Linked DNA regions of Homo sapiens: region 2 is linked to region 1. Evidence: fine-mapped expression QTL. Tissue or cell type: tibial nerve. Region 1 holds a variant in brackets; the other region holds the start of a gene. All regions are shown on one strand. Distances are from middle to middle. Region 1 overlaps LOC112267901 (a long non-coding RNA gene). Region 2 holds the start of TSPAN5 (tetraspanin 5).

Evidence for each region. PIP is the estimated chance that this variant, and not a neighbour inherited with it, causes the effect.
Region 2: TSPAN5 starts here. The variant in region 1 is fine-mapped to the expression of TSPAN5 in tibial nerve (GTEx, PIP 0.95).

What each region holds. Positions count from the first base shown.
Region 1 is chr4:98,676,028-98,681,412 of GRCh38, reverse strand. It overlaps LOC112267901 (a long non-coding RNA gene), which reads right to left. Exons shown (of 3, transcript XR_939016.3): 3 at 2,765-3,438. Among named protein-coding and RNA genes, the nearest start is that of TSPAN5-DT, 20 kb to the right of the region's middle. The variant T/G (reference allele first, on the strand shown) is at 2,672.
Region 2 is chr4:98,656,472-98,661,856 of GRCh38, reverse strand. TSPAN5 (tetraspanin 5) reads left to right here and starts at 3,246. Exons shown (of 8, transcript NM_005723.4): 1 at 3,246-3,711. The coding sequence starts at 3,631. TSPAN5-DT (TSPAN5 divergent transcript) reads right to left here and starts at 2,955. Exons shown (of 3, transcript NR_148380.1): 1 at 2,835-2,955; 2 at 931-1,059. LOC112267901 (a long non-coding RNA gene) reads right to left here and starts at 3,134. Exons shown (of 3, transcript XR_939016.3): 1 at 2,985-3,134. RefSeq lists silencers at 3,089-3,268, 3,522-3,681.

The sequences.
Region 1 (5,385 bases):
CTTCACATGGCATTCACAGGGAGAACAGTCAACTGGAGTCGGGACCACTTTAATGATTTCATCTTAACTTGTCTACATCTGCACAAGCCCTGTTTCCAAATAAGGTCACATTTCTGAGGTACTAGGGCTTGAGACTTCAACATATCTTTTTTGGGGGGACACAATTCAACCCATAACAATGCCTTCATTTTTTTTGTACTTTCCTTCTATAAAAGCAAGTAATGATAGTACTCACTATTGATGAGAATACAATATGCAGTAAAGTGGTCATTCCCATTGCTATTGGAAATGTCAATTAAAACATTAGAAACAATTTAAGTTCATTTTAAGATGTAAATTCCAGAAAGTCAGGGACCTTGTCTGTTTTCCTCACCACTGTTATCTCAGCTGCAAAAACACAGCTTATCACACAACACACACTCAATGAATACTTGTTTTGAATTGATGTATTATCTTGAAATGCCTATACTAAATGGTTATGGTTTGGCATTGTTAGAATAACTAGACAGAAGAAAGTGATGTTAAATACCATACTCTTTACTAAATAGATGGGAAGTTTCCTCTCAGCCTAAGTATCTATTCAAAAGAATAATTTAGGTCTTTATAGAAATAATAGAATGTGTTTGCTGGAATTCATACAATGGTATAAAACCTATAGTTAATATTTAACTCTATAGAAAATATATGTATATTGTGTATTCAGTAAACTACAAATAGTTAAGTTTCCATTTCTGTCCCCAGTAAGGAATTGGTAAAAATGATTACCTTAGGTAAATATCTTTCACCTTTAAAAGTTCATTAAAAATTTCAAATCTCTTAGAAACCCCCAAATGAATTATCTGATCCCCTGATTAGGTTAGGTTCTCCTGTCACTCACTCTCACAGATTTCAAAACTTCTTTGTTGTTAGTACTTATCAATTTGAACTTAAATAATTTTTTTTATTGTTTTAAGGCCTAGCTTTGCTGCTATTATACAATCCATGAAAGCACACTTTTCTTGTCTTTTTCACTAAGGTAATTTAACCTCCAATATTTGCTTAGTGTCTAGCATATATTTGCTGCTCAATAAATATTTGCTACGTCAACACATAAATTACTGAAAGAATGAATGAGTGAATAAATGAATGCATGCTTGGAGTGTGAAGTCTGAGCCTGATTCCCCTGCTTTGGACTTTACCTAAGTTCTGCTGATGATCTTCCTCAAGAGCCTTGTCCTAAGGCAGTATTTTCAGGAATGTCATTTTCTTTCATTTTTCACCCTAATTTCTCTGCAGAAATTCTGTCTTTGAGTTTGCTCAAAATAATAGCCTATATCGATTTTATTGCAAAGGAGACATTGTTTTCCTTCAATAAACTCTGCAAGAATGCCTATTGCTGCTTGTTTGTTATCAGAGGAAGCTTCCCTTTCTATTTGCATGATCCTGTAGTTTTCCAGCCCTTTAATCTGGTTCTCCATGTTCCCTGGTCAGCGGCCTGTAGGTTGTGCCCACATTGTGTGGATGGAAGCTAAATTCTTCTTCTTTTGGTGGGCGAAGTAACTTACTGATTGGGGTCAGGGCTACAAAGAGATCCCCACTGGGCAAAAGAATGCATGCAGTGAAGCTTCCTTTGTAACGTTATTAGAAATTATTTTCTGGCTCCAACAGGAAAGGCTGTTTTCTAATTTAACCATTTCAGGTCCACTGTATCTGCAAAACTTTCATTTCCATTTGTAGGTAATTATAAATAATGGGATATATATTTTTATTTATTTTTATGAAAAGCTTTATATTTCTTTAAGATAGTCTACAAGTGGAGATGCCAAGTCACCCACTGAATACAGACTTTTCTTTTTGAGGGATCTTGATACAAATTCAAATTGCTTGTCTAAATTTATATCATCAGTACAAAAGAGAGTCCCCTTAACTGAACCTTTCCCAAGGATGTATATTATTATTTTTAAAAACAAATCTTTAGGGCTGGGTGCAGTGGCTCACACTGGTAATCCAGCATTTTGGGATGCCGAGGTGGGAGGACTCGTTGAGGTCAGGAGTTCAAGACCAGCCTGGGCAACATAGCAGACCCCATTTCTACAAAAAAACCCACATTGTTTTAAATTATCAGGGAGTGGTGGCATGTGCCTGTAGTCCCAGCTACTCAGGAGGCTGAGGTGGGAAGATCTCTTGAACCAAGAAATTTAAGAATGCAGTGAGCTATGATTGTGCCACTGCACTCTAGCCTAAGTAACAGAGTGAGACCCTGTGTCAAAAACAAAACCAAAACAACAAAAAAACTAATCTTTAGTAATAGTATTAGTGAAAAATGAGCACGATTTTTTTGTGTTGTTTCTTTGGTTACTATCAAGGATCAACATGCTTGCATATATGTGTTGACTGGGTGAATTTTCTCTTTTGGGTAATGATCTCTTTCATAAATATTATATTGGCCAGCTATCAACAGGGACCCTACCAGTTTTCGTATCTGTTTGCCTGAGGTCTTTATGTAGAAACTATATTAACTTTGACATTTTATGGAAAACATTTTTCCATTTTAATATTTGTCTAATAGTTGTTTTGTGTATAGAATTTCTCATTTTTATAGATCTGCTGGTCTTTATAGTTTTTTCTGTTATTTCTAGTATAGGAAAACTTCCCCCTTGTAGAAGTTTTATAAATAAATATCCATGTTTTC[T/G]TCAAATGTTTCTACTGTTAAATTTTTAAATATTTAAATGTTTAACCAATCTAGAATTCACTTTGGTGTGTGGAATAAAGTGAGAAATCAAAGTTTTTGTATTTCTAGGCATTCATCTCATCACCATTTATTGAATAATTTGTTCCTGCTCAAGGGTTTAATAAGCTTCCTATGGCATAATAGATTCTTATGTAAAATAGAGTCAATTTATGAATCTCAAAAACAAAATGTCCTAGACAAATTTTTCTTCAAGCATGTGCTACATGTTATTAATTTGCTACAAGGGCTCCAGGAAAGTGACAGAAACATGTGTGACCCGTATAAAAGTGGAGGGGTTATACAGTGAGAGACAGAAGGCTTGCATAAGTAAGCAGTTTTTTTAAAAAAATTAGAAAGATTCCATTTTTATTTTACAAAGTCATGAAAATATCATGTTCATATCAGCTGTGAAAAAGGAACAATGTGACAGAATGATCCATTATCCTAGGTGTGAATTATACTTTTCAGGTATGTTTTAGAATCCTTTTGTCAGTTAACAAAAATAAACCACAAATGCTTTGATACGGATTATATTAAACCACTTTCTTGGCCTCTAAGACTCTGTGCTCTCCAGGTTCTCTCCTATTTCATTAGTTGCCTTCTTTCAGTCTTCTCTGCTGGATCTTCTTTCTTGTCCCAAATTCTTCATGTTGGTGAGCCCCAGGATTCTCTCTGCATTCTCTCCGTCGATGACCTCATCCAATCCTCTGGCTGTACATTCCATCTATCTGTTGATGGCCCAACATGTTTCTATGAGTTTCATGATCTTTTAGCAACTGCCTACTCAACATCACCACTTCCACTTGGAGTCTAACAGACATTTCAAACTTAACATGTGTTAAGACTCCTGGTTTCAATCTCCAGCTCCTGCTCCTTTCCCAGTCTTCCCCAGTGAAGCAATTAGCACCGTGATCTAACCAGTAACTTCAGGACAAAAATCAAGGGACCAACCTGGATTCCTCCCATGGTCCCACCCTTCATACCCAACCCATCAGCAAATCTTTTATGTCTATCTCCAAAATCTATCTGAAATCTACTTCTGGTTCTTTCCACCCCTACTATACAAGTACAAGCCCATCTTTTCCAGACTGAATTACTGAAATAACCTCCTAACTGTTCTTACTGCTCTATTTTCCCCTCACCTGTACCCTGTCTATTCTCAGCATCAAGACCAGACAGCTCTTTAAAAAAAACCTTATTAGATCACATCCTCACCTGGTCAAAACAGCTACCACAAGACTTACACCCCAAAGTCCTGTTCTACAAGGGCCTGCACAATCTGCCCTCACATTACCTCCATCTTCATCTCCCACAGGTCTCCACTTTACGCACTCTGCTTTAGCAACACTGTATTTCTTTTCTTTTCTTTCTTTTCTTTTTTTTTTTTTTTTTTTTTTTTTGAGATAGAGTTTTGCTCTTGCTGCCCAGGCTGGAGTGCAGTGGTGTGATCTCGGCTCACCGCAACCTCTGCCTCCCAGGTTCAAGCGAGTCTCCTACCTCAGCCTCCCGAGTAGCTGGGATTACAGACATGCACCACCATACCCGGCTAATTTTTTTGTATTTTTAGTAGAGACGGGGTTTTTCCATATTGGTCAGGCTGGTCTTGAGCTCCTGACCTCAGGTGATCCTCCCGCCTCGGCCTCCCAAAGTGCTGGGATTACAGGCATGAGCCACCGTGCCCAGTGCAACACTACATTTCTTGCAGTTTCTAGACTATATCAGGCTGGTAGCATGTTGGGGCCTTTGCATTTGCTGTTCCCTCTGCAAGAAATACTGCTCTCCCAGATAGCCACACGGCTCTCTCCTACACTTTATTCAAGTATCTGTTCCAATGTTACTCCCTCAAAGACCTTCCCTGACCACATCCCCCTTCTTTCATTCTCTATCCCTTAACCCTATTTTATTTTTATTCAATGCACATATCGTTACCTGACACTATACTATATTAAGGCTTTATTTGTTTGTTGTGCCAACTCCTCAAGAATTGAAACACCAGGAGGGCAGAGCCTTTGTGTTGTTCATGACTGTATCCCTAGTACCTAGCATTTTGCTTGGTATACAGTGGGTGCTCAATAAATACTTGTTGAATGTCTTGGTTAAACCTACATTATTTGGAAAATATTTAAATATTTATATCAACATCTTTCTGCCCAGGAACATAGTGTATTTTTCCATTTTCTCAAACTTTAATAAATATATCTTAATAAAATTTTGTTCTTTTCTTTGACTATTTGAAAGACATTATGCATTAAAGCTACTTCTAGATGTTTTATATATTTTTTCTTCTTACTACCATATGAGCTTTTTTTTAAAACCATCTCAAATCTGTTTTAGAAAAGGTAAACTATATATATATATACATACATATACATACATTTAAAAGTTTCTAGCTGATTATTACAATTATATTGGAATGCTTTTGATTTCTGCCTATCTTACTTTCAGCCCCTTGTGTTTAAACAATTTTCAAGTTATTTATTTGGACTTATAGTCATACAATAACTGTCACAAAATAAGTATCATTTTATCTCTTCTTTGTTAATAGTATATCTTTTGTATCATGTGTTATTGCATTGATCACAGCTTTCAGAACTATATTAAACAATATTCCTTTTTTGTGCATATTTTAATGGGAATATAACTAATGTTTTGCTATTAAATATAATGATGGCTAT
Region 2 (5,385 bases), 20 kb after region 1:
TACAGGCAGCCTTTAAGTGCCGGGATGGAAGAACACAGCGGGTGTTGAGGGAATAAAGAAGGAGCCTCCGAGACATTGAACAAAAGTAGTGAAGAATAAGAGAAATCAGCTCACAGACAAGAGACAAGGAGAATGCCCCAGGCAGAAACTCTAAATGACATGTGCAGAGGCACAGAATGTGAAGGAACATTGTGGTCCAAGTAACTACAAGGAATTGGATATCACCCCTACTCTTTGATCTTTAATTTCTGGCCAAGTCTTCAATATAAATAATGCTATGATATACATCTTGCAGTGTATAACTTTTTCCATCTGCTGGGGTATTTCTTTGGGTAGATTCCCAGAAGAGGGACTGCTGAGTCAAAATGTAGGAGCACTCTGACCTGATATATACAGCCAAAATGCTTTCCAAATGGACATATTATTTCATAAGGACACCAACAATGTATGTGCTAACCAGTGCTCATTATTTTTGTATCTTTATTAGTTTTAATGTATACTTCATTTATTACTAGATTAATTTCCCCATATATTTTATTTCTTATATGATTTATTTTCTGTTTATACTCAACCACTGCGATTCTATATTTTACTATAGCTCTATGAGCCCTACTTATAATATAGACATTCAGGTTTTTATTTTTCATGTTTGCTGCCAATTTTTTTTCTGGTTTAGCTTACACTAAAAAAAGCTGGACACGTAGAAGTGTTTAAGATATTACCCAATCATATCCATTGATTATTTCCTTCTATTGCCTCTAAGTTGAGAAATACTTCTATACAGAGGTTTGACAAATATTTTTCCTTCTGGTCTGCTTTAAAATATATTTAACTCCTTAATCCTCATAGAACTTATTTTGGATATACGAAATGAGATAATTCAATTAGTTTTTCCACCCCCCCCTCCAAATTACTGATTAGTTATCTTACCTTTCCCTTCTCCATTGATTTTTCTTTTTAAGACTTTATTTTCTTAGCAGTTTTAGTTTCACAGCAAAATTGAAAGAAAGACTGCATACTGTATGATTCCTTATATATGGCATTCCGGAAAAGGCAAAACTAAGGAGACAGGGATACAGTCAAACTTCAGTGGCTGCCAGAGACTGGGGGGAGGAAGGGATAAATAGGTGGTGTACAGAGGACTTTTAGGGCAGTGAAAATACTCTGTATGATACTATGATACTATGAGGGTGGGTTCATGTTATTCTATATTTGTCCAACCCTATAGAATATACAGCCCCAAGAGTGAACCCTAATGTAAACTATGGACTTTGGGTGATAATGATCTGGCAATGTAGGTTCACTATTTGTAGCAAATGTGCTACTTTGGTTGGGGATGTTGACAATGGGGGAGGGTGTGGGGTCGGGTATATGGGATATCCACTGATTTTTATTTCAAAGATAAATCCACTTAGAGATCAACTCAGTCATCAATTGCATCTAATTTCTGGTCCTTTTGAAATGTGTCACATCAGCTTAGGACAGACCTTTCTTCTGACTCATCCAGTATTCCTGCAGCGACTGTTCTATTTATATACAGAATTACAACATAGCTCCAATAGGCTTAGGTAAAGCTTGTCAGTACCTTCCTGTTAACAAGGAAATCTGCTGCTGAAAGACCTTACTTTTGAAGTCTACCAGATTGGTGGTAGTATGGCCTGTGTTTTGAGTGGGTAGAGAGCACTTTTGAGGGAGTGAGGATTATTTCATCCAAAGGGCTGAAGCTACTGTTATCCCGTGTCATAGCTTCTGAGGTACTGAATGAGTAGGATCTCCTGGCCCTCCCATCTCTGTGGGTACCTCGTTCATACTTGCGACCTCAATATAGCCTCAATCCTGCTGAAGCCCAGTACTATCTCTAAATGTGGTTTATTGCAGGAAAAAGTAGCTTCTTGACTAGCCAAAACTTGACTGCCGGTTGTCAACTAGCCAGTTTTTGAGAAAAGTGAGAGGTTGTTACGTAGGAAACCTTATAACTAGAGGCTCTCAAACTCAAGTATTTAAGTATCATCTTTTAGATTTCTGTGTCCAGGATCGGGTTGCACTGGGTGGTGCTGGAAAAATTTTTTGATCTCACCTCCTTCTAGCCTTTTGAATCCTTAAAAATATTCCCATAGACATTTATACACAGTCCTGGGCGGTTCTTCCTTCTCCTTCCGTGAAATACTGGTACCTGCTTTGCCAACACCTATGAAAGTGCTCCAGGAGGAGGGCGGATAAGCAACTAATGAGCACACCTGCTCAGGTAGGGTTCTAAAACAATTTCCAGCCACCTGTTCTATTCTTCCCCAGAGTTCAAAAGCTTAATGGTTCGTGATCCAAAAACCCAATTCAGATTCCCCAGAAGACCTCCCTGGAATCCGTTGTGGATTCCTTCCTAGAGTTAGGAGGCAAGCAGGTTTCTTAGGCACTATTCTGTCGGGGTAGGGGGGAGCGTGCGCTGTCCGGGTTTGTGTGGTTGCAATAGACCCTAGGGCGAGGATCGCATCCCGGGCCAGGACTCCCTTGAGCCATCTCTTTTTCCTCGTCCCCATTTCTAGGATAAAACCCATTTCTCCGGTAGGTGGGGAGGTTGGGTTAGAGTCACACAGGGATTCAGGAAGCTTTCCTTTTCAACGTCCCATCCCTTCATCCTTTCCTCCCACTTCCCGTGGCTCTTTTCTCCACCTTCCCCAACTACCCCCTTTTCCATTCAGCGAAGTCCACGACGACTTTCCTTCCCTGTCCAGTGGCATCGCATCTTCTCTAGCCACATAAGCCTGTTGTGGAGGAGGGGGCGCCAGTGTGGCTACCCTGGAAGGGGTGTCGGGGGTGGCTCGCAGGTCCTCACTCACCCAGCCCTCTCCCCGAGGAGCGACCCTCTCGCCCGCGTCCCTCCAGAGCTGCGCCGCTCATCAATCCCGGTCACTCTGCCAGCCTGCTCCCCGGGCGCCCTTCCTTCTCCCTCTCGCCTGCGGTCCTCCACCCTCCCACCCCCTACCTACCCCGCAGCGACGTTCGGGGTCAGCGGCGCTTGGGGTTGGCCCGAGAAGGGGCGGGGATAAAGCGAGCGGTGGAAGGAGGCGGCTACGTGGTGCCACCGCCGCCCGGGAGCGCCCGACCCCGTGCGCGCGCGCGCCTAGCCAAGGCTTGGGCGGCGGGCGGAGCTGCGGGCGGCGCGGGCGGAGGAGCAGCCGGCCGGGCGGGCGGAGCGAGAGGCGGGCGGAGCGAGGGGTGGGAGGGCGCGCGCGAACGGGCGGGCGAGCAAGCGAGCGGCGTCTCCACCAGCATCTGCCGCGGCCGCCTTTGCCCGAAGCCCGGGGACGAACCGACGGACCGACCGCCTGGCGCACGGACGCGGGCGCTCGCTTTGTGTTCGGGGCTAGCGTCGGCGAGGCTTGAGCTTGCAGCGCGCGGCTTCCCTGCTTTCTCGCGGCCACCCCGGCTCCGGCGGCCTCGGCGCGCGAGGGGCTGGAGGTGCGGGAGCCGCTCTCCGCCGGTCGGTCCCCGCGCGGCTGAGCCCAGGCCGCCAGCGCCGCGGCCCCGTGCGGTGTCCCTGAGCTCCTGCTCCCCGCCGGGCTGCTCCGAGCAACGGTGCTTCGGAGCTCCAAACTCGGGCTGCCGGGGCAAGTGTCTTCATGAACCCAGAGGATGTCCGGGAAGCACTACAAGGGTCCTGAAGTCAGTTGTTGCATCAAATACTTCATATTTGGCTTCAATGTCATATTTTGGGTAAGTTGGAGCGCTCCTGGGATTCCAACTATTGTGGCCGATCGATTCGCGACGATTTCCCCCACGTTGTTCGTTGCCTTTACTTTTCGCAGCCCCGCAGGCGCTTGCCGGAGCAGCATAGAGGCATTCGCCTTCCGCCTTTCCAGCTTGCGCGTTGGAGAGATAAACATTTAATCCTTTCGAGGAATGGGAAGAGGTGAAAAGAGAAATCGAGGCGGAAAGGGGGCACCGAGGCCTTCTGGTGGCTTTTTGAGGAACGAATAGCAGGGATGCAGATAAAAGAAAGGGTTCGGCAGTTTGAGAAATGAGCAACCACACGAATTGGATTTGCTCTCGGTGGGATATAGATGTTGGGCAGAGCGTGGTGTCATAATAGGGAAGGCTAATCGGGCACGGCCGACCCTGAGGTCCACCTTCTAACAACGATCTGATTGGACGAGGGCTTGGCTCCGTGTTGCCGCGGCTGGTCTGTGCCATGCTCAGCGTGTATCTTCTTGCACCATCTCGGGCTTTGTGTAGGATGCAGATGCCGTGGTATATGGTCCTGTAATTGCACGTAAATAACGTTTCCTGCACGCTCTCCTCTTCAGCTGGAAAGCGCTCCCTGTGCGTAATGGACTGGTCAGTGGGGGTGCGGGGTAGAGGGATTTATTTGTATGTATATATCATCGTCAGGATAATAAGTCACCGTCAACATATATTTCAGTGTGTTCCTGCCCCACGTCCTCATTTTTAAAGGAGTGACACAGAGCGGGCCGTTTGGGGGAACCTTTGTAGAAATGCAAAGGAGAAGGTGTGCGAGGCATGTTTTATTGGGGAACCGAGAGAGCAAATGCTTTAACACAAGATTCAAATGATGCTCTGCTTGGGACTGCAATGTGTTGGGAACCTATTGTAATTAGGCTGGGACGCCTACTCTTTTTGTTTGTTTGTTTGTTTTGATTCTTTTCCTTGATCTGGCAAACGTGTTCAGCAGCCAGACAAAGAGTTCTCCAGGACAAGGGGAAAACGTTGGTTCAAAGACCATGTTATTTTTCTTCCCCTTCTCATCCCATCTCATCCTCTTCCTCAGTGGGCACCCGCATTTCCATAGAAAGTAAAGATGGTGGCTGTCTGGGTAGGGGGTTCTCTAAGTTGCTGTTCAGTGTGAGGTAAACAATGCTCCAACTGCAGGATCAATAATTATCCACAGCAGTCTGAACACGGAATGTATTTATTTGAATTCTCCTTTAATTTGGGCTGTTTGCTGTACGTATATACATCTGTGAGAATAGTTGTCAATACGGCTCTTCATATTCTTTTTTTGTACCGCACTCTTACCAGGTTATTTTATTTTCTGTTTTCTATTATAATACCTTGCATTGGTCATGTATGTTTTGTGAGGGGAAATGCAAGGGATTGGAGACCACTTTCCGTGTCAGCATGTCATCTGTCTTCAGGACTAATAAAGATAATGAGGGGACACATGAATGGATGTCATATCCGATCATTCCACAGGCAGTTTTTTGCCAGTGTTGTGCATGATTCCCGGGAGCAGTCACCCACCTCCCTGCAATTAAACACTGCTACAAGTACAGGAAGAAGGAATTATTTTCTTTCTTTGCCCCTTCTCCATTTGTGAAAATGTTTAAAAGTGGTGGGTAGCCACGGTTTTGAGTAAGATATTCTGATTTG